Regions from separate parts of the Homo sapiens genome. Here regions 1, 2, 3, 4, 6 and 7 are each linked to region 5. Evidence: fine-mapped expression QTL. A gene starts in region 5. Each other region holds a variant in brackets. All regions are shown on one strand. Distances are from middle to middle. Region 1 overlaps CDC16 (cell division cycle 16). Region 2 overlaps CDC16 (cell division cycle 16). Region 3 holds the start of LINC01054 (long intergenic non-protein coding RNA 1054). Region 4 has its middle 3.9 kb from the start of CFAP97D2. Region 5 holds the start of UPF3A (UPF3A regulator of nonsense mediated mRNA decay). Region 6 has its middle 4.5 kb from the start of CDC16. Region 7 overlaps UPF3A (UPF3A regulator of nonsense mediated mRNA decay).

Evidence for each region. PIP is the estimated chance that this variant, and not a neighbour inherited with it, causes the effect.
Region 1: its variant is fine-mapped to the expression of UPF3A in whole blood (INTERVAL, PIP above 0.99).
Region 2: its variant is fine-mapped to the expression of UPF3A in whole blood (INTERVAL, PIP above 0.99).
Region 3: its variant is fine-mapped to the expression of UPF3A in whole blood (INTERVAL, PIP above 0.99).
Region 4: its variant is fine-mapped to the expression of UPF3A in whole blood (INTERVAL, PIP above 0.99).
Region 6: its variant is fine-mapped to the expression of UPF3A in whole blood (TOPMed, PIP above 0.99).
Region 7: its variant is fine-mapped to the expression of UPF3A in thyroid (GTEx, PIP above 0.99). The same link has a PIP of 0.9 or more in tibial nerve.

Annotation. Positions count from the first base shown.
Region 1 is chr13:114,236,180-114,240,179 of GRCh38, forward strand. It overlaps CDC16 (cell division cycle 16), which reads left to right. Exons shown (of 18, transcript NM_001078645.3): 2 at 466-520; 3 at 620-717; 4 at 2,811-2,849; 5 at 3,171-3,311. Among named protein-coding and RNA genes, the nearest start is that of CDC16, 3.3 kb to the left of the region's middle. The variant C/T (reference allele first, on the strand shown) is at 2,118.
Region 2 is chr13:114,251,200-114,255,199 of GRCh38, forward strand. The region is part of intron 12 of CDC16 (cell division cycle 16); the gene reads left to right. LOC105370384 (a long non-coding RNA gene) reads right to left here. Exons shown (of 4, transcript XR_007063887.1): 3 at 1-137. Among named protein-coding and RNA genes, the nearest start is that of MIR548AR, 8.7 kb to the left of the region's middle. The variant A/C (reference allele first, on the strand shown) is at 1,623.
Region 3 is chr13:114,333,839-114,337,937 of GRCh38, forward strand. It overlaps LINC01054 (long intergenic non-protein coding RNA 1054), which reads right to left and starts at 110. Exons shown (of 3, transcript NR_126391.1): 1 at 1-110. The variant C/T (reference allele first, on the strand shown) is at 2,311.
Region 4 is chr13:114,173,261-114,177,359 of GRCh38, forward strand. No RefSeq gene overlaps it. Among named protein-coding and RNA genes, the nearest start is that of CFAP97D2, 3.9 kb to the right of the region's middle. The variant G/T (reference allele first, on the strand shown) is at 2,383.
Region 5 is chr13:114,279,252-114,283,350 of GRCh38, forward strand. UPF3A (UPF3A regulator of nonsense mediated mRNA decay) reads left to right here and starts at 2,350. Exons shown (of 10, transcript NM_023011.4): 1 at 2,350-2,595; 2 at 2,770-2,876; 3 at 3,586-3,692. The coding sequence starts at 2,389. LOC105370384 (a long non-coding RNA gene) reads right to left here and starts at 1,818. Exons shown (of 4, transcript XR_007063887.1): 1 at 852-1,818. RefSeq lists enhancers at 1,578-1,877, 2,331-3,018 and silencers at 2,098-2,367, 2,598-2,777, 3,158-3,367.
Region 6 is chr13:114,228,370-114,232,468 of GRCh38, forward strand. No RefSeq gene overlaps it. Among named protein-coding and RNA genes, the nearest start is that of CDC16, 4.5 kb to the right of the region's middle. RefSeq lists an enhancer at 1-464. The variant G/A (reference allele first, on the strand shown) is at 2,487.
Region 7 is chr13:114,299,849-114,303,923 of GRCh38, forward strand. UPF3A (UPF3A regulator of nonsense mediated mRNA decay) reads left to right here. Exons shown (of 10, transcript NM_023011.4): 9 at 1,883-2,177. Among named protein-coding and RNA genes, the nearest start is that of CHAMP1, 13 kb to the right of the region's middle. The variant G/A (reference allele first, on the strand shown) is at 2,096.

The sequences.
Region 1 (4,000 bases), 43 kb before region 5:
GTGTGTGTTTTTAAACTTGAGTGTTATTAAAACTGCCACTGTGTTATATAAGGTATTTGAGTATAGTGTTCTGTCTTCTAAATTTCACTTTGGGATTCATTAACAGCTCGTTGAAAGTGTTATATAAATCACACATGAATTGTTAATGACTAGCTTTTGCTGTTTCACTTGCATTTCACTTGTATGTTTCACGATACATTTTTACAGTGTATGAGTTTTAAAAAATTACCTTCATAAGTTGCATATACAAAGATATTACAGGAATGTTTGTATTGCGACACTGAACTAAAATTTACCCTACGTGAGATGTAAGATAGAGATGTAACAAATTGTTGTCTTGAGATGAAGATTTATTACATAGAATTATATTAATATATTACATAGAATTATAATAATATTAGATAACTGTTTAAGACTATTAAAATAACAGGGCAGTTACCACCTTTTTTTTTTTTTGGTATGCAGCAACAGTATCAAAGTGCTCTATTTTGGGCAGATAAAGTAGCTTCACTCTCTCGTGGTAAGTGACAAAATGCTAACTGGTTTTCTGATTAATCTTAAAATTCGTTTTCTATTTCACCTTGTACCTCTGACCACTTATGTGAATTTTTCCCTCCAGAAGAACCCCAGGACATCTATTGGTTGGCTCAGTGTCTTTACCTGACAGCACAATATCACAGAGCCGCCCATGCACTTCGGTCACGAAAACTGGACAAAGTAAGTGATGGTATGAACTTTAAAGCTCTTCAGAGCTTTAAAAAAAATGTCATTAGTGGCCGGGCGCGGTGGCTTACACCTGTAATCCCAGCGCTTTGGAAAGCCAAGGCAGGTGGATCATGAGGTCAGGAGCTCAAGACCAAGATGGTGAAACCCCATCTCCGCTAAAAATACAAAAATTAGCCGGACGTGGTGGCAGGCGCCTGTAATCCCAGCTACTCGGGAGGCTGAGGCAGAGAATTACTTGAACCTGGGAGGTGGAGGTTGCAGTGAGCTGAGTTCGTGCATTGCACTCCAGCCTGGACAACAGAGCAAGACTCTGTCTCAAAAAAAAAAAAAGTCATTAGGGTTTTAGGTGTATATTCCATTTCTGTTGAAATTATTTAACTTGATGCAATTTTTCTTTGTTTTTGTTTTTTTGAGGTCTCTCTGTGTCACCCAGGAGTGCAGTGGGATGATCGTGGCTCACTATAACCTCAGACTCCTGAGTTCAAGTGATCCTTCTGCCTCAGCCTCCCTAATAGCTGGGACTACAGGTGCATGCCACCACACCCAGCTAATTTTTAAATTTTTTTGGTAGAGACAGAGCCTCACTATGTTGCCCAGGCTAGTCTTGAACTCCTGGTCTCAAGCAGTCCTCCCGCCTTGGTCTCCCAAAGTGCTGGGATTATAGATGTGAGTCATCACAGTAGGCCCAGTTTTTTTTTAGTGAAAGTGAAGGGAAAATGTCTTATACCTAATCTGTCACCTTCTTTTTCCCCCATCTCCCATCTAGTCTCTAAATTCTGAAGACTGTTTTCTAAACAGCTCTGGAATCATGGATATTCCTCTTCCTCCCCACTCGTACGTGTCAGGCCTTTGATTTTTTTGTCTGTTCTGTTACAGCCTCTCTTCTTGTCTCTTTTCCCCAGTAACAGTTTCTCTCTTCTTATCTTCCCTGTCACAAGTTCATCTTGTGAACTATTACAGGAGTGAGTAGTCTTTAAAACACGGATGTGGTTATATTCCCACAAAGTCATTCAGTGACTTCCCATTAGCTGCAGGATAAAGTCAGATGCATCAGTAGGTCTGTGAGGCCCTCCTTGTTTTCTCTCCACTCTGCGTCTAATCCACCACCATCAATACCTGGAGCACGTGCTCCAGTCACGTGGTGCTGCTGTGAGCTCCTTGGACACCCAGCAGTTATTCACACTCAGGGCCTGAAGTGGAGCTGCTGCGATCTCCTTGGACGCCCAGCAGTTATTCACACTCAGTGCCTGAAGTGGAGCTGCTGTGAGCTCCTCGGACGCCCAGCAGTTATTCACACTGAGGGCCTGAAGTGGAGCTGCTGCGATCTCCTCGGACGCCCAGCAGTTATTCACACTCAGTGCCTGAAGTGGAGCTGCTGTGAGCTCCTCGGA[C/T]GCCCAGCAGTTATTCACACTCAGGGCCTGAAGTGGAGCTGCTGCGATCTCCTCGGATGCCCAGCAGTTATTCACACTCAGTGCCTGAAGTGGAGCTGCTGCGAGCTCCTCGGACGCCCAGCAGTTATTCACACTCAGGGCCTGAAGTGGAGCTGCTGCGAGCTCCTCGGACGCCCAGCAGTTATTCACACTCAGGGCCTGAAGTGGAGCTGCTGCGATCTCCTCGGACGCCCAGCAGTTATTCACACTCAGTGCCTGAAGTGGAGCTGCTGCGATCTCCTTGGACCCCCAGCAGTTATTCACACTCAGTGCTTGAAGAGCTACCCAGTGCTCCACTCCTCTGCCTGACCACTTACTCGCTGCCTCACTTACTCGCTCTCCTGCAGATGTTTACTTCTCCACCTGGTTGATGCTTTCTGTTGCCCCGTTTCGTCATGCTTACCTGTTGTGCTTAGTTCACATCTCCCCTACTGTAACCTCCTGGGGCAGGGCCTTACTGCTTTTGAATCCTTGGTGCCTAGTAAACAGTAGGTTCATAATAAATATGGTTTAACAGGACTGGATTTTTTTTTTAACTGCAAGAGTAAAAGGAGAAATTATGAAATTAGTTCTATTTTATGCTTATGGCTTTCTTTGAAAGTGAAGATACATATTATTTTGACCACTACTTAAACAAATTAATTTCTTTCCTAGTTGTATGAAGCATGTCGTTACCTTGCAGCTAGGTGCCATGTAAGTATGCTCATAATTTCATTTTTATTTGGTTGAATAAAATGAGTGTTATGCATCTCTTAAATATGTGTGAGAATTTTAGTGATGGAGCTTAGCAGGTTAGTAAAGTATTTCATGAGGAAGTGTTCCTTTCCTTAGTCATGTTTGCTATAAAATACTGATTCTTCGTTTACCACATGCTGACATGCATGAAGAAAATTCTACTTTAGACATTTCACATTTAAATAATGGGCATAGTATATGTTATCCTTTAAAAATTCGGATCATGTGTTTCGTGTTAGAAGTCGTGAGTGATGAGCGGCACTTCTGTTTTCCACGTAGTATGCTGCAAAAGAGCACCAGCAGGCCCTTGATGTTCTTGACATGGAAGAGCCCATCAATAAAAGATTATTTGAAAAATACTTGAAGGACGAAAGTGGCTTCAAAGATCCTTCCAGCGACTGGGAAATGTCACAGTCTTCAGTAAGTAGTACTGTGAGCACAGCTCAGTAACGGCGGCGAGAATTGCCCTCATTACGTGGCAGAAACACATTATCTTCTTTTACTTATTACTATATTAAAACAATTGTGGTTGCCAATTTATTTAATTTGCCCACCAAAACCAAAAAAGATTCTGAGACATTTCTGAGCCCTTAGTTGCAAGCTGTAATTGTATCCGCAGATGCCTGCATCCAAAATAGGCTGGCTTGAAACTTCCTTCTCATATTTGATGCCTTAAGCTACTCCCTAAAAGTGGAATAATTTTTCTTCTCCTTTCTGTGTTTCAGCAGTGTTTTGGACCTACACCAAGAAACTTTGATTAGCGTACATTGTTTCTTTCCAGGAAATGGTTTTGTGTTCTGTTTGCTTCAAAGTACATTGCTATGTAATTGTGTATATTTCAGTTTGTATACTTCATATCTCCATGAAATTGCACATTCCTTGCTGGCAGACATCATATAGTAACTTATTAAGTGACATTTACAGATCACTAATCTGGATTTAAAAAAAAAAATAAAAACTTATTGAGGTATAATTTATATGCCATGCAGTTCCCCCATTTAAACTGTATGGTTTGATTCCTTTTAGTGTATTCACAGAGCTTTGCAAACCTCACCATGGTCAATTTTAGAATATTTTTATTATTCAGAAAGAATCCCTGTAAGCCTTAC
Region 2 (4,000 bases), 28 kb before region 5:
GACTGATGACTGCATCCCTGCCTGGAGAGGTAGTGGGAGTGCAGTGGTCCAGAGGCCTGGTCTGGAGTCATACCTCCTGGACTCTTCCTGGCTCTTCCACTCCCAGCCATGTGACGTTGGGCAAGTTTTTTAGCCTCCTGAGAAATAGGAATAATAGCAAAATTTACTCACTGGCTTATTGTGAGAAGTAATTGAGATAATACCAATTAAAGACTTTGAAGAGTGTCTTACACATAGAAAGCACTCAGTGAAAGTTAGCTACTTGTGTTTATTTACTTGTATGCAGGGGTGGAATCATATATTTATCTGTATTGAATGTCATCCTGTTAGGTTTGGTCTCTTTGCAAACTGTTAGGCTCTTTTTGTCACTCAGTTCTGCGTTTAAATTAGTACCCACCTCAGTCAGTAGTCATAGTAACTTGGTAAGTATCATAGCTCCTTAGCTGTATTAGTCAGTAGGGCTGCCATAACAAAATACCACAGACTGGGTGACTTAAAGGACATTTATTTTTTCATAGTTGTGGAGGTTGAGAAGTCCAAGATCAGGGTGCTGGCCAGTGCAGTTCCTATTGAGGAGTCTCTTCCTGGTTTGTAGATAACTGCCTTCCTGCTGTGTCCTCACATGGCAGAGAGAGCTCTGGTGTCTCTTCCTCTTGTAAAAACACTAGCCCTATTGGATGAGAACCTTACACGAACCCTATTGGATAAAAGCCTTACACTAGCCCTGTTGGATAAGAGCCCTACACTAGCCCTGTTGGATAAGAGCCCTACACTAGCCCTGTTGGATAAGAGCCCTACACTAACCCTGTTGGATAAGAGCCTTACACTAGCCCTGTTGGATAAGAGCCCTACACTAACCCTATTGGATAAGAGCCTTACACTAGCCCTGTTGGATAAGAGCCCTACACTAGCCCTGTTGGATAAGAGCCCTACACTAGCCCTGTTGGATAAGAGCCCTACACTAGCCCTGTTGGATAAGAGCCCTACACTAGCCCTGTTGGATAAGAGCCCTACACTAGCCCTGTTGGATAAGAGCCTTACACTAGCCCTGTTGGAAAGGAGCCTTACACTAGCCCTGTTGGATAAGAGCTTTACACTAGCCCTGTTGGGTAAAAGCCATACTCTTAGGACTTCATGTAACCTTTATTATCTTTTCATAGGCCCTATCTTCAAGTACAGGCACAGTAGGGGTTAGGGATTTAATGTATGAATTTGGGGGGCAGAGGGGACACAAACAGTCCATAGCACTAATATATTACTAGAAAATAACCTTCCAGAGTAGAGTTGCACACCCAGTTATGGATCCACCTAAATGGTCCTCATACTCAGTCCAGGTCTCTCCATCCTGTTCACCAAGATGAGTGAGACCTTTTCCAGTTCTCTTCTGAAGCTCAGCTCCAGTATCTGCATATTTCCCCTATGTATCAATATGATAATTTGTTACCAAAAAAAAAATCTCAATAATTCACTATGAGTTGGTTTTTATGAGCATATGCTACAGTCTGGTAATTTTTATTTGATATTTTGGGTTCTCAGAAACAGAATAGTTATTAGTTAGTTCCTAGCTGGGAATCAGAATCAATGATAATTAATGACACAATACCTTCAGTGTTTCCAAATCT[A/C]ACAAACTTTGTCATTAAATTCTCACATTAAGCTAGGTGTGGTAGCTCACACCTGTAATCCCAGCACTTTGGGAGGCTGAGGTGGGAGGATTGCTTGAGGCCAGGAGTTTGATACTAGCCCTGGCAACATAGTGAGACCTTATCTTTACAAAAAAAAAATTTAAAATTAGCTGGGTTTGATGGTGCCTGCCTGTAATCCCAGCTATGCGGGAAACTGAGGCAGGATGGTCACTGTGCCACCACAATCCAGCCTGGGTGACCAGTTGAGATACATCTCAAAAACCTCATGATAGCTCATCAAGATAAGCATTATTTTTCTTTCAAGTTTACTTATCTGTCAGAGCAGCTCTGCATTTTCTTAACTTGTCTGTGTTTGGATAAATGTTTGAAATTGGATGAATATTTTTACGTGTCCTTTATGATTTCTTTTTTGAGTCATTGGTTATTTAAGAATATGTTGACATTTAACTTCCACATATTTAAGAATTTCCCAAATTTTCTTCTTTTGTTGTTTTTTAACTTAATTCCATTGTAGTTAGAGAACATACTTCGTGTGATTTTAGTCCTTTTAAATTTATTGAGGCTGGCCGGGCGCAGTGGCTCACACCTGTAATCCCAGCACTTTGGGAGGCCAGAGGGGTGTGGATCACTTGAGGTCAGGAGTTCAAGACCAGCCTGGCCAATATGGTGAAACCCCATCTCTACTAAAAATACAAAAATTAGCCGGGTGTGGTGGCTCACGCCTGTAGTCCCAGCTACTCGGGAGGCTGAGGCAGGAGAAGCTCTTGAACCCAGAGGCAGAGGTTCCAATGAGCTGAGATCGCACCACTGCACTCCAGCCTGGGCGACAGAGTGAGACTCCATCTCAAAAAAAAAAAAAAGAAAAAAATTATTGAGGCTTTTTTATGAGCCATTCTATAGATTGTTCCAGATTATTTGAGAATTCTGCTCTTGTTGGGTGAAGTGTTCCATAGATACCTGTTACATCTGATTTTATAGTGTTGTTGAAGTCTTCTCTTTCCTCATTGATCTTCTACTTATTTATTCTCTGCATTATTGCAAGTGAGGTATTAAAGTCTCCAGATTTTATTGTTGAATTGTGTATTTCTCCCTCCAATTCCGGCACATTTCACTTCATATATTCTGAGTCTCTGTTGTTAGGTGTGTACATGTTTATAATTGTTGTATTTTCTTGATGGATTGAGCCTTTTATCATTATAAAATATCACTAATTATCTCTAATAATACTTTTTTTTATAAAGTCTGTTTCATCTGATGTTACTGTAGGCACACCAGCTCTCTTTTGTTACTGTTTATATGGTGTGGTTTTTTTCATTCTTTTAATTTCAACTTGTGTTTTGAATCTAAAGCATGTCTCTTGTTGACAACATACAGTTAGATCCATTTATGTTTAATTACTAACAAGATAGGATTTATGTCTGGCGTTTTGTTCTTTATTGTCTATACATCACATCTTTTGTTCCTGTATTTCTTCTTTTGTGTTGAGTAAATATTTTATAATGTCCCATTTTAATCCCCTTTTTTTATTATACTATATCTTTTGAGTTATTTTCTTAGGTTGGTTATCTTTAGGATTATAATTAGCACCTTAATTTAAAACGACCTACTTTGAATTAATACCAATTTAATTTTAATAGTACGCCCAAACCTTACTCCGATATAGCTGTTTCCTCTTGCCTCCTTGTGCTGTTAGTGTCATATAGAATACATCTTACACATTATAAGTCCATCAGCACAGATCTGTTATTATTATTTATTCTGTTGTCTTTTAAATCAGATAGAAGAGTTAAAAACAAGCACATTTTATACTGTCTCATAATTACCAATGTAGCTATTTTTATCAGACTCTCATTTCTTCGTGTTGTAAACCAAAAATAAAATTTGAAGACCCTCCCCAACCATCTAAATGGGCTTCCTCCTCTAGGCCAGGGCCGTCTAAATTTAACCTGAAAGACTGGTTCAGGCCATGATGGGAAGTGGGGGTCCAACACTCCTCTTTACGCCCTCCAGCATTAACATCAAATGGACCTTCAGTCTGATAAGAAGAAACACTTACCATCTATCCTCTCTGAAGCCTGCTACCTGGAGGCTTCATCTGCATGATAAAATTTGGTCTCTGCAACCTCTTATCATAACCCAGACATTGCTTACTATTGATAATAACTCTTTCAACCAATCAGAAAAATCTTAAATCTACCTGTTACCTGGAAGCCTGCACTTCGAGTTCTTAGAGTTTGACTCTTCTGCAACAATGTGGATTTGAATTCCTATGTAGTATCCTTCTGTTTTAGCATAAAGGACTCCCTTTAGTATTTCTTACTGGGCAGATGTACTAATGACAGATTTTCTCAATTATA
Region 3 (4,099 bases), 55 kb after region 5:
GATTAGGAAGCTACAGTAAAGTGGCAACCTAAGAAATGGGAGAATGAATTCCAGGAGCAGGTGATCCATGCAGGAGAGAGGAGCAGCATTGCCGAGAGCCAGGGGTGAAGCAATTCAAGCTGGAGACACTGAGACAAACACAGGGGCGCCTGGCATTCTCTCAGAGGCAGTACAGTGGTTCTCACAACTCAGTAAATGTGGTAATTATCTCTTATCTGGTTACAATGCATCTTCCCAGGCCTGCCAGCAGGGATTCTAAATCCTGATGCAAATGATGTGGCAGCACTTGTGGTTATAGACATGAGTGTTTGAATCACAGATCCAGGTCCAAACCCAAATCCCCTCAGTAATTAACTGTATGCTGTCATTCAATTACTTAATCTCTCCAGCACGCCACTTCCTCAGGCCAATTCATATGGGAATATAAATTCATAGGAGTGTTATAAAGGGTAGTTTGTACAATGAGCTCGTGACTATGAAATGCTTAGCATGGCATCCAAAAAGTCCTCAGTAAGTGGTGCAACAATACCTTTTTATTACAGAAAACACACTCAACCTAGAAAACAGTGTTCATAGGGGATTCAGAGAAGTAAGTACAGTTGGGTGAGCAGAGCAAGCCAGCGTGGAGAGGGTCTTTCCTAGGTGAGGCCTCTACCACATTTGAAAGTGGGATGCAGGGCAAGAGCTCAACATCAACCAGGACGGGCAGGAATGAAGTAAATAGCTCACACCTGTTCCTTCATGGGTCAGTTCCTTTCATTTTCACTTTTGACTCTGATGCAAAATTAGAACTCTGCTCAAATGTCACTATTCTTAATAAAGTAAAGTAAATAAGTAGGATCCAAAAACTTCAATTGCATAAAATACGTGCTCTTATGACAAGGCAAATGGGAAATATTTTGCAGTTGGTCATTGCCATCACAATAACACAAATTCTAAAACTTATACTGTTTACAACTGAACCACACCCTCAAATAATCAAAAAATGGTCCCTCCCTAAACTCTCTCCCCAGGAAGAGAAAGTCTTTGGCTGCCCCAACCTGAGCAGGAAAGCAGGTGGAGAGGGGGAGCCCACAGCTACAGTGGCAAGAAGTCTGAGGGCTGAGGGCTTTGACCAAATAATAGGGAATTGGGTTGAGTTGTTTGAATCATTTTCCAATAACTGACGTATAAAATAGATTCATTGAAGGAGCTGGGGAATGGGAGCCCACCCCTCAGTCTCCAGCCTCCCCTCAGTCTCCAGCCCCCCCAAACTACATGTTTCTCCAGAGTAACCTTGAGCCTCTCCCAGCATGGATTAAAACCCATGGCTCTTCCAGATCTAAAATCTGAGGCTCTACAATTTAAGTCATAGTTAGGCACTTCCATACCTGTGATGGTAACATTCTTACATACTCAGTCTATCATTGTTTAATATTGAATGAAAGACACACATTTTGTTTACTTATTATGCAGCAGCTAGTCTGTGTTCACCTGCGTTGTCTCAGGGTCAGCTCTTTATTTCCAAGAATCCTGTCCCATTTCCTGGAGCCTATTGACCGGGGGAAAGATGTGGTCAAAAGTTAAAGGTATGTTGGGCAAAGCCTTAGAAACAGCTTTTCTGACAAGCAATGGGGAAAAGACCCCGTTCAATAAATGGTGCTGGGAGCTGGGCCCCTTTCTTACACCATACACAAAAATGAACTCAGGATGGATTAAAGACTTAAGTGTAAAACCCAAAAATATAAAAACCCTGGAAGACAACCTAGGCAATACCATCCTGGACATAAGAACAGGCAAAGATTTCGTGACAAAGACACCAAAAGCAATATCAACAAAAGCAAAAATTGACGAGTGGGATCTAATTAAACTAAAGAGCTTCTACACAGCAAAAGAAACTATCAACAAAGTAAACAGGCAACTTACAGATTGGAAGAAAGTATTTACAAACTATGCATCTGACAAAGGTCTAATATCCAGCATCTATAAGGAACTTAAACAAATTTACAAGAGAAAGACAACCCCATTAAAAAGTGGGCCAAGGACATGAAGAGACACTTCTCCAAAGAAGACAAACATGTGGGCCGGGTGTGGTGGCTTACGCCTGTAATTCCTGCACTTTGGGAGGCTGAGGCAGGTGGATCATGACATCAGGAGATTGAGACCAACCTGGCTAACATGGTGAAACCCCGTCTCTACTAAAAATACAAAAAATTAGCCGGGTGTGGTGGTGGTCGCCTGTAGTCCCAGCTACTTGGGAGGCTGAGGCAGGAGAATAGCATGAACCCAGGAGGCAGAGCTTGCAGTTAGCTGAGGTCGCGCCACTGCACT[C/T]TAGCCTGGGTGACAGAGCAAGACTCCGGCTCAAAAAAAAAAAAAAAAAAGATAAATGTGGTAAACAAGCTTATAGAAAAAAGCTCTAGATCACTGATCACTAGAGAAATGCTCATCAAAACCACAGTGAGGCACCATCTCACACCAGTTAGAATGCCTATTACTAAAAAGTAAAAAACCAACAGATGCTGGCAAGGTTACAGGGAAAAGTGAACACTTATACAATGTTGGTGGGAGTGTAAGTTAATTCAACCATGGTGGAAAGCAGTATGGTGATTCCTCAAAGAGCTAAAAGCAGAACTACCATTCGACCTAGCAATCCCATTACTGGATATATACCCAGATGAATATAAATAATTCTACCATGAAGATACATGCATGCAAATATTCATTGCAGCACTATTCACAATAGCAAAGACATAGAATCAACCCAAATGCCCATCAATCATGGACTGGATAAAGAAAATGTGCTACATATACACCATGGAATACTATGCAGCCATAAAAAAGAACAAGATTATGTCTTTTGCATTAGTATGGATGAAGCTGAAGGATATTATCCTTAGCAAACTAATGCAGGAACAGAAAACCAAATACAGCATGTTCTCACTTATAAATGGGAGCTAAATGATAAGAACTTGTGAACACAAAGAAGGAAACAAAAGACACTGGGGTCTACTTGAGGGGGGAGGGTGGGAGGAGGGAGGGGAGCAGAAAAGATAACTATTGGGCACTGGGCTTAATACCTGGATGATGAAATAACATGTACAACAAATCCCTGTGACACGTGTTTACCTGTATAACAAACCCTCCCATATACCCCCCAACCTAAAATAAAAGTTAAAAAAAAAAAAAAGGAACACAGCTTTTTATTTTTTTCTCTTTAATACCATAAAGGTCATGGGCCATTTGCCACCTGAACAGTCAGTAACACATGAGTGTAAAGAAACTGAACACCCAGGGACACCAGAGACCGTTCACTGTAGAGGAAGGAGGCAGGTATAACTCATAAGGTGAACTTCCTCCAGTCCCAAAGTGGTTCCCCTCTCCTTAAATGCGGGTCCCATGGAATTCAGATTTAGAAGTGAAGCAAATGAGAATAGCTCACAGGGGAGCAGTTCAAATGTGCCGAAAAGGATAGAGCAGCCCCAATAAGGAAGGAAGGCCAGACAAGCAATGGATTTGTAGGGAAGACAATGTGCACCCATCAGAGCTCTGATTCCTTCACTTCCACTACCCTGCCCTGCCCACTAACTTTGAAAAAATATGGATGGCAAGTGTTGGGCCGTAAGACATTTCCTTGCTTTATAATCTGGATTTAGTGGGTTAAATTTCAGAGATAGTGAAAACATCCCCCTTTAGTTAACTTTTAATTTCATAATTGTACCTTTTTTTTTTTTTTTTACAGATATTTGAACATGTAAAACAAAGAAAAGAGTACGGAAGTAATTTATAATCAACAAATATGTGTTCACTGAGTAAGTGATACTGACATGGCATATGGCATACAAGCATCCTGAGAGTAGGATCATGGGGCATTCAATGGTGATTGTCCCTAGAGCTGGTTAGGGCCCAGCTTTCCACTGTCCTTGTACTGCTGCGTGTACAATCGGTGTCTTCTTTAACTTCACAGAGATGCCACAAGGCAAATAGCATTGTCTTCACTTTCTGTGTAAGAAAACTAAGGCTCGGTGAGAGTATGCAGAGCTGGTTCATGGATTTGTTTGGGTCCTTCTAGTTTCAAAACCCGTGAATATTTTCCTGTCTCTAATGCTAATCTTAGCAATAT
Region 4 (4,099 bases), 110 kb before region 5:
TAAGCAATGAAGGATTCACAAATTGGACAGCCCCCAGAATCACAGCAGATCCGAAAAGACTCTAGCACGGCCATGTAGTGGAAGAATATTTATAGACAAAGAAAGGGAACTGACGTACAGAAATTGGAAGTGAGGTACAGACAGCTGGATTGGTTACAGCTCAGGGTTTGCCTTATTTGAACACAGTTTGGACACTCAGCAGGGTGAGTGGTTGAAGTACAGCTGCTGGAATTGGCCAAGACTCAGCTGTTGTTACAGGCTCAGACTCCTAAATTAGGTTTTCAATCTTGTCTACCTATTAAGTTAGGCTGCAGTTTATCCACAAGGACTCATAAATCTGGAAGTACAGAGTCCTTCTTGGGCCATATTTAGTTGCTTTAACACACCTATAACAAATTAACTTTACCAAGGTGTCTTCCAGTCTCAGCTTCTCACATGCTAGTAAGAGGAAGTTTTTCCAAGGTATCTTCTGGGCTCAGCTCCCCACTTACTGGTAAAAGGAGCAGTTTTGTGCATATCTTGCTGGGTTTGTCTTTCCAGTCATCACAAGAGTGGCTGCACCACACCCCATCACTTTCTGTGTGGAGTGGGCCCAGCTCCAGCTCTGTGCAACAGTAAACCAGTGACACTGGAATTCATGTGTTTATACACTCAGCTTTCACATGCTTCTGCATCAATTTTTTAAGACTATTTCCAGAGTGGGATTGAGACCTAAGTGAATCGTCCCAGGAATAGGGTTCTTGAGAAATGATTGCATGAGTAAGGCTGCAGTTAACACCACCATGACTAATTACCAGCAAATTGAACTCCTTCTGTTCTGTGAAAGTTGCTAGTACCAAAATAGGTTCACTCATATCAAACTCTAACAAAATGGGGTGGGGAGGCCATGACGGGGCGCCCTCATACACAAACACCTGGACAAGCCTCATCTCAAGGCACCCCTGCACGGGCCTCAGGTTCGCCCATATTAGGATGCATTGCACGAAAATTCCTCAAGACAGGTCGGTATTACAGGTGAGCGGCCTGCACAAGGAGCTAACGCCAGCTCTGGGACAAGCTCTGCTAACCAGTGATTTTTGTTACAAAGCAGCTTCTGTGGAGTTCTCTCTGTCTTTAAAGATCTCCCCTTTGCCCTGGCCCCTCCAGTGTGCCTGTGATCTATCATAGCATGCAATCCCGTGCTATTCTCACTTAAATTTATTTGTTCTGGAGAGCCTGTTCCTTTGAATTTCCTTTTAGGTGGACAGTTCAAGACCCCTAACACATTAATCCACTTAATCCAAAGAGCTCCTCTTGTATCAGGGAAGGCCACAGGGACATCCCTGTCTTGTTCCTGACCTTGGAATTGCATTGCTTAGTTTCCAAACATGGGATTTCCCAGTTATCTTTTGTTATGAATTCCTGGCTCTCTGCCACTGTGAACATTATCTGTATGATTTCAGCCCTTTGAAACATGTGGACACTTTTTCATGGCCCAGCATACGGTCAAATTTTGCAAATGTTGTAAACATTCTTTCTGTATTGAAAACTTTTATGGTTTCCTGTACTCTGCAGCTATTTCCGATTTTGTCTTTTGTGCCTTGAAGCAGAGTGAGTCTTATCATCTGTGTCTGAGCCATCTGCTCCAAGGTTCCTGTGGTGCTAGTCGTGTCTTCTCTGCAGGATTGATTCACTTTGCAAGATGTTTGGTGCACTGAGACACTGGAAAGTTGGCAGCATCTTGAGATGTCATCAGTCCAGGGCCACGTTAAGATAATTTCGCGACTTGAGGGTTTTTTAGGCACTGTGACATTAAGCTAATTTCACAACTGTGTGAACCTGGGCCGCAGGGCTCTTCCTTGTCTTGTCCCCTGCTCTGCTGTAACCTGGCAGTTGTTGAAGGATGGGTTATTTCTGATCCACGTTTTCCTGAGGGTGAAGACTTCAGCTCCTATGAAGACTGCCCACCTGCCCCATCCCCCACAAAGACCCCACCGCTGGCATCCTGAGTGCCTTCAGGAGAAGCCCTCTGAGTGCTGGCTCGGGGGTCTGACAGATTTTTTTGACCACAGCCTCAAAATTCCTGACTCCTGGGTGGGCTCTTCAGTATATGCAAGATGGCCTCCAGGATTCTGGCTTTGTTCAGTGGAAGGGTCGACTTAAGCAGGTCACGCAGCAGTTCCTGGTGGTGGTGACTCCCAGCTTCTTTAGCTCAGCTCTTGAGTGATTTGCACTACACAGAAGGTACTGGAGACACAGTTACCTTTTCTGGAAATCAATGTTTGCAAGCACATTTGCCCTCCAAAGGTTGAAGGTTGAGTGAATTTGAAGTGGTTGGAGATTTGTTTGTAAACCACTCTTCTGCAGAATGAGAACGAAGTTGCTGCTTGGTTTTGAAGATAC[G/T]GCCTTTTGTGGGAGGGCAGAACAGAAAAATCAAAGCTTGGATTTAGAGTTAAGGACACAGGAAAAGAATTATGAATATTAAAGACTGAGTTAATATGTGTCATATAGCAAATACTTTACATATTGCATGCAACATAGTAAGCTGTTCTATGTAACGGCCTCCACATTTCAGGATATCACTTGGTGACATTTCAAGGCATTTCTAAGAAACAAAACGTTAAACTTAATATTGGGCCAAAATATTGATTAAGGCAGCAGCTGAACACCCAAATATAATCTGGATAATCAAAGTCAAAAATAGGCGTTGGTATTTACTTTCTGTAGAATATAAGTAGAAACTATATAATACCAAACATCCAAACCTAGCCCAGTATAAAAAATAATTCTCCACTTAATATAGAAATCACAAAATGCAGTGTGGTGCCATGGCTTGGATCCCGGAACAGAGGTGCACGGTGGAAGTCCGCACTGCTTCTCAACACTGGACCCCAGACTGCAGCTCACTTCCATGCAGTGTTGCTTCATGTGTGCAAGCCCTTGTCAGTGTTTCATTAGTCCTCAGGACAGATGCCAAGGAGCTGCTGCTTAACTGCCTTGTCTGGTCTGATCTTAAGAAGCAAAACTTGATTGGAGCCCTGTGGTGCCCTGAAATCCAGAGCATGTTGTTGGGGGTGATTGATTTTCCTGGGTCTTTAGCAACATGTCTGATGTTTGCAGATTCTGTACCATGGGCCCTGCCGTCAGTCAAGTCCAAGAGCAGACGTGAGTCGAGTGGTCAGTGGGTTGCAGGTAACCATAGGCCAGCCGAGGGTGGCAGCCGTAGGTGGACAGCTGGGACTCCTTCCCTGTGGGTGACAGCTGTGGGTGACAGCCGTGGGTGGACAGCATGGGTGGCAGCCGTGGGTGGCAGCTAGGACTCCTTCCCTGTGGGTGACAGCTGTGGGTGGACAGCATGGGTGACAGCCGTGGGTGGACAGCTGTGGGTGACAGCCGTGGGTGGACAGCTGTGGGTGGGCAGCATGGGTGGCAGCCGTGGGTGGCAACTAGGACTCCTTCCCTGTGGGTGACAGCTGTGAGTGACAGCCGTGGGTGGCAGCCGTGGGTGGCAGCCGTGGGTGGCAGCTAGGACTCCTTCCCTGTGGGTGACAGCTGTGGGTGGACAGCATGGGTGGCAGCCGTGGGTGGACAGCTGGGACTCCTTCCATGTGGATGACAGCTGTGGGTGACAGCCATGGGTGGACAGCATGGGTGACAGCTGTGGGTGGACAGCTGTGGGTGACAGCCGTGGGTGGACAGCATGGGTGACAGCTGTGGGTGGACAGCTGTGGGTGACAGCCGTGGGTGGACATCATGGGTGGCAGCTGTGAGTGGACAGCTAGGACTCCTTCCCTGAGGGTGGCAGCTGTGAGTGACAGCCGTGGGTGGCAGCTGGGACTCCTTCCCTGTGGGTGACAGCTGTGGGTGACAGCCGTGGGTGGACAGCATGGGTGGCAGCCGTGGGTGGCAGCTAGGACTCCTTCCCTGTGGGTGACAGCTGTGGGTGGACAGCATGGGTGGCAGCCGTGGGTGGACAGCTGGGACTCCTTCCATGTGGATGACAGCTGTGGGTGACAGCCATGGGTGGACAGCATGGGTGACAGCTGTGGGTGGACAGCTAGGACTCCTTCCCTGAGGGTGGCAGCTGTGAGTGACAGCCTTGGGTGGCAGCTGGGACTCC
Region 5 (4,099 bases):
CAATGTGTCGTACTGCCAAGTATTGTTCCTGTTACTACCCAATTCTTCAGTATCTCAGGACACAGTTTATCCTAAAAAGGTGTCCTGTTTGCTAACTACAGTGGCTGTGTTATCGTTAAAGGAAATACTGGGAAGTGTTACGGTCACCAGCTTCAAGTCACTGTCATCTACCAATGAGATAGGGGCTACCAAGTAAAATGTAGCCCAGGGCCACATTCACAGATGGAAGTGTTCAGTTAAGCAAAAGTAAAGTTACATACTAAAAGCCCACATGAAGAAGGATTTGGAGATATTTCTTCCTGCTTTGCTTTGGCTGTAAAGTTCTGTACATGTATCAAACAGAGCATTTCAACAGGCTGGCTAATGTGTAGGAAGCTAGCTTTTCTTTGTGATATAATTTGTCATGTAAAATCATAAGCTATTTTACAAGTGTATTTCATTCACTGTATCTTAAAATTCATATGGTTTTATTTAAAGATAATTTCATCAAACAGCTGAATTCTAAAATCCTACCTTTTTTTCAAAATCATTTTTCAGAACTTTGCAATAACAGGAAGTAAAGAATCAGAAGGGTGTTAAAAAATTGACTTGGGGGGAAAAACATTTGGACATTTTGCTGGCTAGGTTTACGAAATATACACATCCAGCAAACATGTGAGTCCCTTTAGGGTACAGTGCAGTGAAGGGAGAAGTGGAAATACTCAAGGTTCTGGGGAAGGTCAAATGAAGGGTCCCTCACATTGGCTGAGGCCAACCTGGCTTCAGAGGTGTGCAGAGGCACCAGGCCGAGAACAGGGCTTTGCAGTGGTGAGGGCAAAACATGAACACAAGAAATACCCTAAGTTACTGACCTGGTTGTGCCTGGTGACAGATGGGACCAGCTCTTTTCTCCATTTGGTAATTTTGGAAAATTTGGCAGAGTTAATAAAGAAATCCCCTTGGTGCAAGATTGCTACAATAAGAATCTATTATAGATGGCAGATGTGAAGTTCACAGTCCTTTTTATTATCCTAACCTAGTAACATGACTAGAGGTAAAATTAAATATTGAGTTAGATGATTGTTTAATATTTTAAAACCAGAGGGAAGACATACAAATAGATTGAGAGCAGTTTCTTTCTAAAGATAATCAGAATATATCTCCTATATTTTAAACACTGCAGGAACAGTCAAAATTTTAAAATAAATGGTTTCCACATTTTTTTATCCCCATCTCTCCCCCTGACTATATAGTAAAATATTTTATTTGGCAACCACGTTTTCCTACTTTTAATCACACATCATCAGAGCTTTTCATCAGCCTAACTAGTCTTCCTACTCACTGAGTTGTGACGAAAGCCTGGTCTAGGCACTTTTACCACGGCCATGTTTTTGTTAAGATCCCTGCAGACTGTGAACTATGAAAACCAGCCCCTGGCCCCGCTTGTGGGTGCTGCAGAGCCGCGTGTGAACTGCTCCTAGGAAACCGCGTCTCTGGGCAGGGTGGCTCTCGGGCCGTGGATCCGCCTAAAAGCTTTTCTGCCAGTGACGCCCTTGGTCTCTGGATGTGTTCACGCCTCAGTGATTTTACTCTCTGGTTTCTTGTGTGTGCTTGAGATTCTTGAGAGAAAGCGTGCTGCAGATGAAAAATGCAGCCTACATGAAAAAGAGAAGGGGAAAGCCATTTTAAAATAACTTCCATGTAAGTTACTGTAATCAAAGTGCTGCTGCCTGTGTGTTCATAAAAAAATATGTGCAAGGGCCCGGAGCGGTGGCTCATGCCTGTAATCCCAGCACTTTGGGAGGCCGAGGTGGGCGGATCACTTGAGGTCAGGAGTTACCGAGACCATCCTGGCCAACAAGGTGAAACCCCGTCTCTACTTTAAAAAAACAAAAAAATTAGCCAGGGGTGGTGGCGCGTGCCTGTAGGTCCCAGCCACTCAGGAGGCTGAGGCAGAGGCTGCAGTGAGCCGAGATCGCGCCACTGCACTCCGGTCTGGGCGACAGAGCGAGACTGTCTCCAAAAAAATTAAGAATTCAAATGTGAACCCGGCTTTCATGGCGCCCCGGCCACGGAGAGCCTGGGGGAGTGGGATAAAAACGGTGCTGGGATGGGAGGGCGGCTTGTCCGCGAACTCCTCCCACCACGCCCGGACCAAAGCCGCCGGCGCCCCGCTTCCGGGGCCGCCCTAAACCGCGGCCGCCGCTCCCTGAGGGGCCGCCTGACCCGGCGGAAAGCCAGGCTGTGTGGCCGGAGGTCACCACCCCGACCCCGACTAGTCCCGCAGCGCCTGACCCCTTCGTGGGCGGCCCCGACCGCCGCGGCTCGAGGAGGGGCGGGGCTGGGGCGGCCGAGCTCTCGCGAGGTTTCGTCGGGGGCTGGCGGCTGCGGCTCGGCGGAGAGTGCGGCATGCGCTCGGAAAAGGAGGGGGCCGGAGGCCTTCGGGCGGCCGTTGCCGCGCGGGGCCCGAGCGGGAGGGAGAAGCTGTCGGCCCTAGAAGTGCAGTTCCACCGCGACTCGCAGCAGCAGGAGGCTGAGACGCCGCCAACTTCGTCCTCCGGTTGCGGGGGCGGTGCGGGCAAACCTCGCGAGGAGAAGAGGACGGCCCTGAGCAAGGTGGGGACGGGGGCGGGGCGCGCAAACCTCGCGAGGAGAGGACGGCCCTGAGTGGAGGGAGGGGAGGGAGGGGAGGGAGGGGCGGGGGCCGGGCCTCCCAGCGCGGTACGCGGTGCCTTTTGAGCTCCTTGTCCACGCTCCGCCCCGGTGGGAACGGCCGCGCGCTCCCCGCAGGTGGTCATCCGCCGCCTGCCTCCGGGCCTCACCAAGGAGCAGCTGGAGGAGCAGCTGCGCCCGCTGCCAGCACACGACTACTTCGAGTTCTTCGCCGCCGACCTGAGGTGAGGCCCGCCCCGAGGGGAGGAAGAGAGGGCGGAACCCAGAGCTCGGCGGCGGTGGCCGTCTCGTTGCCTTACGTTCCTTACCCTGATTTCTCCTATATGGGAGTCGTGTGAGCTTTTTGAATAAATACATTTCAGTAAAACGTGTCCGTTCCGTCAAAGAAAAATACCACCAACAAAGAAACACAGATGTGGTTTACATGAAAAATGCGGATGATTTTCAGACGGCTAACGCTTAGGAAAGCGGGTGCCTTTGAAAGGACCAGCGTTGCCCGCCCGGCGCCTCCCGGGCTTCCCTGCTCGTCCGCGGACGGGGCGCTGCGGGGCCGGGGGGCGCCGGCTCTTCCTGTGGCCTCCACGCTGGTGCCGCAGCCAGTGCGGTTTTAAATACCGGAGAAGGTCCCCAAGTCAGGAGAGTCTCTCGGCGCCACGGGTTCCTCTGGGAGTGCGCCCTGGCCTTGCCTTAGGGTTTCAGCCTCGGAGGACCGGTTCTGGGCAGTGGAGAAGGGACCTGAGTTCTGCCTTGTAAAGTTAACGTTTTGCGTTTGTTTTTGCTAAAGAATATCCAAGTTGTTACAATTAACTGAGATGATTTGGCACAAAAGTTTTATCTAAAGTAGTTTGTTGTGCCCAGAAAAGGAAAAAGAGGCTAAATTAATGGACTATTGTATTTTTCACTGACCATTTTCACTGTTATCTCTTATTTCAGTCTTTATCCTCATCTCTACTCAAGAGCATACATTAATTTTAGGAATCCTGATGACATCCTTCTTTTTAGAGATCGTTTTGATGGATATATCTTCCTTGACAGCAAAGGTTGGATTATTGGTTTTTAAAAATCTATTATAATCTGTAGGTATACTAATGAAGTATTGCTAGAATATTCGTGCTTTTTAAATTATTATTATTTTTTGAGACAGGGTCTTGCTCTGTTGCCCAGGCTGGAGTGCAGCAGCCGCAATCACGGCTCACTGCAGCCTCACACTGCGGCTCAAGCAATCCTCCAGCCTCCTAGGTAGCAGGGACCACAGGCGTGTGCCACCATGATCGGCTGATTTAAAAAAAAAATTGTGTAGAGACGGGGGTCTCACTGTGTTGCCCAGGCTGGTCTTGAACTCCTGGCTTCAAGTGATCCTCCCACCTCAGCCTCCCAAAGTGCTGGGATTACAGGCGTGAGCCACAGCATCCGGTCTATTTGTGCATTTTAATTAAAAAGTTCTCAG
Region 6 (4,099 bases), 51 kb before region 5:
AGACCAAAGTACACGTGGATGAGTCAATCAGAAGAACAACTTGTACTAGAAAGTGCTTTCCCAAATTTGACATCAAAATTGAGACCAGTGAACACTTTCATGGCTCATGACAAAGTTCATATCCACCTAACACAAAACGAGGGCATTATTCAGTTAATTTGATATACTAAAAAGATAATCAGATAACCAGCTAGAGATTATGACACTTCTGAATTGGCTGTTACCCTCATGTCGACGGGGCTGGACCCGTGTCTGTGGACAGCAGTCTTTGAGAAGCTGCAGCGGGAGCCTGTGCAGGATGACTAGTGTTGCAGTGTCCTGGGGGTGGTGGGACAGGATGCTAGGAAGAAAAGGCGTCCGGCACCTCAGGATGCTCTGTCCGGGTGGCTCAGCTTGCTTCCCGTAGCCTCCCAGTCCTTTTACTGAAGTTTCAGGAGGTGATGCTTGGGACGCCAGGCCTGGCAGATTCCTCTCCAGGCTTCCCTTCACCCCGCAGAGCTTCCCCGCACTGGCAGAACTCGATCACTGCCACCCAGAGGGCATTGTCTCTGAAGAGGCATGGAGAGTGGGGAAGCTGCAAACCCCAGGCTGATGTTCTTGGTGTCCCCACAGCCTGCTTTTGCCTTAAAACCCCAGGTATACTCACAAATGGGTACAACACCCAAGAGGCCATTGTCAGCTCAGGGACTTGGTTTTAGGTGCGGCTTTGGGAACTTGCTTAGGTAAGTTAGCCTTGCTGGGTCTTATTTTCCACATCAGTAAGTGCCACGAAGCTTAACATTTATAAGCCAACAGAATGCCTCAATTTTAATTAACAAACATTAATTATCAATCATTTTTTACCTGGATGGAGGTTAATTCAAAGGAAAGGTATTAACCCAGAGGGTTTTTCTTTTTAAGAGTGTTATTGTGGTGCCCATGTCCCGGCGGGGAAGCTCTGAGCTTCCTCTGCCCAACTCTGCAGGCGACGCTTATGGCCCCGTCTGTGGCGTCCAGGTGCACCTGGACAGGTCTCCAAGGCAGCGCTGGAGCAGATTTGCAGCCACAGGGTGTGGAGAAATGCAAGATGAATTGAGACTTGATGTTTGGATAGATGTTAATTCCAAACTTGAGAACTGTCTTTGTAAAATGACAACAAAGACGTATCTGCCAATCATTGACTTCTTAATCACTGCCTTTGCTCTTTCAAAGCCTCAACATTTTGCAGTTTCAGCCAACAGAATTCTCTAACTTTGTAAACTGCTCTCCTGTGGCGACAATACCACCTCACTCTAATCAGTGAGAAGGGTGATTGTTCTCTCTTCCTTTCAGAGTAATTTAAATTCTTGAGAAACCACTTGGCATGTTTAATATTCTGGTCATACTGAAAATCCAAGTCTTGTTTTCCTGACCGTATTTCAGGAACTAGTTTAAGGACGGAATTATCTTTTAAAACCACAAAACAAAGATTTTTACACACTGAATTTCACAAAACTCAGTATTGCAGAATTGCAAACATGCTCTGTGACTCAGTCTCCAGGGCTTAACTTCCCCCTTGTAGTAACTTTAGAGGGTCCTGAAATTTTAGCTTCTTTAACAAGGGCAAATACTGGGAGAGAATGTAAGGGGAGGAAAATAAACAGAATGTCTTCTGTTAGACAAGCCAGCCTCTGGCATGTACACATTTGGCAGAGTTCTAATTTTGTTTGCTAACCTCCGATCACTACCTGAAATGGGTCTCTGCAGGATATCAAGGTGTCAGCAGCGCTGTGCTCCTGGAGCATCTAGGTGAGAATCCCGTCCCTGGCCTTTCCCAGCTTCAGGAGGCCACCTGCACTCCCAGCTCACTGTTCTTCCTTCTTTCCTTCCTCCATCTTCAAAGCCAGCGGCGTAGCGTCTTCCAGTCTCTTTGACTCTGACCCCCCGGCCTCCCTCTTTCACTTGTAAGAACTCTTGTGATTACATCATACCCACCCACATAACCCATCTTAACTTAATCACCCCTTGCAAAGTCCATTTTGTCGTGTGAGGTAATACACAATATTTATGAGCCCTATCAGTTTAACCAATTAGTAAGTGTGGTAGAGGAAATACAACGATGGAAGGTTTAACCTGAGGAAAGAAAAATAGCTCAGAGCAGTCTGAACTATTTGAAGGATGCAAAATGTATCAGGACATGAGTGTGGGACTAACTTCAGTCACTCTGCTCCCCATGCCACAGGGGCAATTGTTTAAGGCATTTTGTTCCTGACTGCTGTGTCACCCATTATTTTCATGTTTCTGGAGTCTGTGAGACAAAGAAAAATGTATAGTCAATCAATAGCTTACGTTGTTTTAATGTAAATTTTTGATAAACAACTCAGGAACTGCCCTTTCTTTCCTCCTTAAACCCCCCGCCCCCAACCAGGTACCTGCTGCTGGTTGGGTGCATACTCAGGGAAATTCAAATCTGTGCTCCCAGGTGGTCATCCTCAGGGCTTGTGCTCAAATAAACTCCATGCTAACTC[G/A]TATTTTCTGAATCTTTCTATCTAAGGTTGACAAACCTAAGGGGCATCATTCTAAAATCAGTAAACATGATTTTGCTGTAGGCTATTACAGGTATAGAAGGGAAGAAAAGCACAAGAAATCTAACCAAATATAGAGACTCCAGGTCATTCTATTAGAATGTGATGTGGTTTGGATCTGTGTCCCCACCAAAGCTCATGTGGAATTATAATCCCTGCTGCTGGAGGTGGGGCTGGTGGGAGGTGGTTGGATCGTGGGGGTGGAGTGCCCATTGCTGCTGGCGGTGGGGCTGGTGGGAGGTGGTTGGATCGTGTGGGTGGAGTGCCCATTGCTGCTGGAGGTGGGGCTGGTGGGAGGTGGTTGGATCGTGCGGGTGGAGTGCCCATTGCTGCTGGCGGTGGGGCTGGTGGGAGGTGGTTGGATCGTGGGGGTGGAGTGCCCATTGCTGCTGGAGGTGGGGCTGGTGGGAGGTGGTTGGATCGTGGGGGTGGAGTGCCCATTGCTGCTGGAGGTGGGGCTGGTGGGAGGTGGTTGGATCGTGGGGGTGGAGTGCCCATTGCTGCTGGCGGTGGGGCTGGTGGGAGGTGGTTGGATCGTGCGGGTGGAGTGCCCATTGCTGCTGGAGGTGGGGCTGGTGGGAGGTGGTTGGATCGTGCGGGTGGAGTGCTCGTGAAGGGTTTAGCACCATCCTCTACTTGGGACTGTATAGTGAGTGAGTTCTTGTGAGGCCTGGTTGTTGAAAAGTGTGTGGCACCTGCCCCCTCTCTCCCTTTCTCTTGTTCTGGCCAGGTAAGTTGTGTCTGCTTCCCCTTCGCCTTTCGCCATGATTGTAAGTTTCCTGAGACCTGCACAGAAGCAGAAGCAGCTATGCTTCCTGTACAGCCTGCAGAACAGTAAACCAATTAAACCTCTTTTCTTATAAATTACCCAGTCTCAGGTGTTTCTTTTTATCTTTTTTTTTTTTGAGACGGAGTTTCACTCTTGTTGCCCAGGCTGGAGTGCAGTGGTGCAATCTTGGCTCACTGCAACCTCCGCCTCTGGGGTTCAAGTGACTCTCCTGCCTCAGCCTCCCGAGTAGCTGGGACTACGGGCATCTGCCACCATACCCGGCTAATTTTTTGTAGTTTTAGTAGAGATGGGGTTTCAGTATGTTGCCCAGGCTGGTCTTGATCTCCTGACCTCACATGATCCAGCTGCCTCGGACTCCCAAAGTGCTGGGATTAAAGGAATGAGCCACCGGGCCTGGCCTCAGGTGTTTCTTTACAGGAATGTGAGAACAGGCTAATACAGAAAATTGGTACTGAAAAGTGGGGCATTCGTATGAAGATACCTGAAAATGCGGAAATAACTTTGGAACTGGGTAATGGGCAGAGGTTGGAAAAATGTGGGGGGCTCAGAAGAAGACAAGAAGATGGGGGAAAATTTGGAACTTCCTAGAGACTTTTAAATTGTTGTGACCCAAATGCTGATAGTGATATGGAGAGATGGGCAGGCTGATAAGGTCTCAGATAGAGATGAGAAACTTACTAGGAACTGAAGCAAAGGTCACTTTTGCTGTGCATTAGCAAAGAACCTGGCAGCATTGTGCCCCTGCTCTAGGGATCTCTGGAACTTT
Region 7 (4,075 bases), 21 kb after region 5:
GGATTTTAGGTGGGAAGACTAATGCGATTAGGCTGCCGGCTTCCCAGAGCCATAGTCGTAGGTGTGATTTCTCACTGCCTTTCGTTCAGAGTTGATGAAGTATTTTTTCTACTTCTTGGGAGTTTTGGTTTATTGCTTTGTTTATAAAATTTATATATGATTATCAAATCCATGATTGTGAAGCACTGTGATGATGTTACCGGTGTTGTTACTGTGACAGTTGATGACACAGCAGGACCTACTGCCACGTGTCTGCTGTGAATTCATACTTGGTTACAGATCCTTATGGTCCCCAACAGCCCTGGCAAATGAGCGAAGCAGCCATTTATTTACTATTCATTTAATATTCTGATAAATGCATAAAGATAATTAATCTGCCATTATTAAATGTCAGTTAATTTTACTCTGCACATCATGATGGATGTGCACCTGGGCTCCCAGGACAGCCACTGGACCACTTTAGTCTCAGTCATTTTATCTGTAGAAAAGAAGGTTTATTTTATTTTGTTTTATTATTTTATTTTATTTTAATTTTATTTTTGAGACAAAGTCTCGCCCTGTCGCCCAGGCTGGAGTGCAGTGGCACGATCTCGGCTCACTGCAACCTCCGCCTCCCAGGTTTAAGCAATTCTGCTTCAGCCTCCCAAGTAGCTGGGATTACAGGCACCCGCCACCATGCCTGGCTAATTTTTGTTTTTTTTTTGTTTTTTTGAAACGGAGTTTTCCTCTTGCCCAGGTTGGAGTGCAATGGTGCGATCTCAGCTCACCACAACCTCTGCCTCCTGGGTTCGTGCAATTCTCCTGCCTCAGCCTCCTGAGTAGCTGGAATTACAGGCATGCCCCTCCATGCCTGGCTAATTTTGTATTTTAAGTAGAGACAGGGTTTCTCCATGTTGGTCAGGCTGGTCTCGAACTCCTGATTTTAGGAGATCTGCCTGCCTTGGTCTCCCAAAGTGCTGGGATTACAGGTGTGAGCCGCTGTGCCTGGCCTAATTTTTGTATTTGTAGTAGAGACAGGATTTCATCATGTTGGCCAGGCTGCTCTCAATCTCCTGACCTCAAATGATCTGCCTGCCCCTGGCGTCCCAGAGTGCTGGGATTACAGGCACATGCCACCACACCTGGCTAATTTTTGTATTTTCAGTAGAGAGGGGGCTTCACCATGTTGACCAGGCTGGTCTCCAACTCCTGGCCTCAGGTGATCCCACCCACCTTGGCGTCCCAAAGTGCTGGGATTTACAGGCGTGAGACACCATGCCTGGTCAAAAGAAGGTATTTACTTTGGAGGGTTATTGAGAATTAGAAAATATGTATAAAAAGTACCTTAGCATGGCCAGGCACGGTGGCTCACACCTGTAATCCCAGCACTTTGGGAGGCCAAGATGGGCATATCATAAGGTCAGGAGATCGAGACCATCCTAACTAACACAGTGAAACCCCGTCTCTACTAAAAATACACAAAAAATTAGCCGGGCGTGGTCGCGGGCACCTGTAGTCCCAGCTACTCGGGAGGCTGAGGCAGGAGGATGGTGTGAACCCAGGAGGCGGAGCTTTCAGTGAGCTGAGATCCCGCCATTTTACTCCAGCCTGGGCAACAGAGCGAGACTCCATCTCAGAAAAAAAAAAAAAAAGTACCTTAGTATAAGGCATATTGCCTATCTGTCACTCAACTGAAATGACAGATACTATTACTATGATTTATTCCTCTTTGTAGTGGTTTTTATCAACGCCTGCTGTGTGCCCATCGCAGTGCAGCCTCAGCAGTGCAGCGCTGAGCACTTCGCATGGGTCCCTGTTGTCTGGGAACCTGTGGTCTAGAAAGGAGGGTGGGCAGCCAACCGGCGGTTTACTGCAGTTGCTGATCATTTGTGTTGAATCATAGGTCACACAGCGGCAGTGATAAAGAGCACAGGGATGTGGAGAGATCTCAAGAACAAGAATCTGAAGCACAAAGATACCATGTGGATGACGGCAGGAGGCACAGAGCTCACCACGAGCCTGAACGGCTTTCCAGAAGGAGTGAGGATGAGCAGAGATGGGGGAAAGGACCTGGCCAAGACAGAGGGAAGAAGGGGAGCCAGGACAGCGGGGCTCC[G/A]GGGGAGGCCATGGAGAGACTGGGAAGAGCGCAGAGGTGTGACGACAGTCCAGCACCCAGAAAAGAGCGACTGGCAAACAAGGTTTTTATTAAACCCAAAAAGAAAAATGTGTCTGGCTGTCTTAAGGTCCAGGCTGCATGCTGACCATGTCACCCCCACTTGGCCTTGTGTCTTGGGGAACGCAGTGCTTTGAGCATTTTCAAGAGCAGTTTTTCCTGAAAGTCAGATCCCAGAGTGAGACTAGTCATCATCTTTTCTCAGATAATCAAATTATTTTTCACCAGGAAAAAGAAAGATTTTATTTAGTATAAAACTAGCACGTTTATATGATTCACTTGAGAATAAGATTATTAAATTTACCCTTGAGACAGGAAGGAAAGTTTTAATGATATTTCATGGAGGTTTCTTCCACATTATTAACAACATTCTGATTATTGGTGAATATTCCCATGGCTCACAAACACCTGTAAGTTAGATCTGCACGGACGGTGAGCACAGGACTGTGGTTACCCCCTTAGCCAAGCAAACAACTTTTTTTTTTCAGGAGCTAATTTTTGTTCAGGTTGCATTTTCCCAGCGCAGCACTACAGATGGCATCACCTTTCTGACAGCACCAGGCCCCACCCTGGCCTCCTAGCAAACTGAGGGCTGCCTAGGGTTCCAGTTCCCACTCACCTCCCTCCCCATGTCTAACCCCTGGCAGCCACTGTCTGTTCTCTGCCTCTGTGATTTTGTCATTTCAAGAATGCTTGATAAATGGAAACACACAGTATGTGAGCTTTGAGAGTGGCTTTCTTCACTCAGTCTAATTCCTTTCAGATCCTTCCAGGTTGTTGTGTGTATGAACGATGTTCACTTTGAAACTGTTTCAGTGTAGCTGGGCATGGTGGCTCACACCTATAATCCCAGCACTTTGGGAGGCTGAGGCGGGTGGATCACCTGAGGTCAGGAGTTCGAGACCAGCCTGGCCAACATGGCGAAACCCTGTCTCTACTAAAAATACAAAAAATAGCTGGGCGTGGTGGCGCGCCTGTAATCCCAGCTACTCAGGAGGCTGAGGCAGGAGAATTGCTTGAACCTGGGAGGCGGAGGTTGCAGTGAGCCAAGATGATGCCATTGCACTCCAGCCTAGGCAAGAAAAGCAAAATTACCTCTAAAAAAAAAAAGTTTCAGTGAAGTCAAGGCTGAAAGCCAGAGGAGAGCCTTCTTGTCTTCACCCTTGAATGAACACCTCTAGAATACTCCAGTTCTCTGGGGTTGCCTGGACCTCGGGGTGCACAAAGTACAGCCATGCGTCTTTTTGATAGGGCGTTGCTCATAGGAGTCCTCAGTCTTCAGTTGGCTTATTTTAGCAGTGGTGAATGGCCTGGTGTTTCCCCCGACCTGAGGTGGGGGAGCATTTGCTCCTGTGTTTAGCCTCACAGTGCTGTGGTGGGAATGAGGCGCTGTGTGCAGGAGCTACTTTCCCGGGAGCCTGGCATTTGTCATGTACTTCTAAGGTCAGGCTCCATGCTCCATCTGTGTATACAGGTATTGCCCTGGTAAGAAGCAGAATTGTCGGCCCGGTGCGGTGGCTCATGCCTATAATGCCAGCACTTTGGGAGGCCAAGGCGGGTGGAACACCTGAGGTCAGGAGTTCGAGACCAGCCTGGCCAACATAGTGAAACCCCATCTCTACGGAAAATACAAAAATTAAGCGGGCATGGTGACACATGCCTGTAATCCCAGCTACTCAGGAGGCTGAGGCAGAAGCATCACTTGAACCCAGGAGGCAGAGGTTGCAGCGAGCCCAGATTGCGCCATTGCACTCCAGCCTAGGCAACAAGAGTGTAACTTTGTCTCAGAAAAAAAAGAAAAACAAACAGAGCTATGCGTGCTGGCTCCAGGCAGCCTGTCCAGGGGCCTGCTGAGCCTGTTCCCACCCCTCCCATTGGTCAGGTTCATACCAAGGAAAAGAAAATTAAGTTAAACCCCCTGGT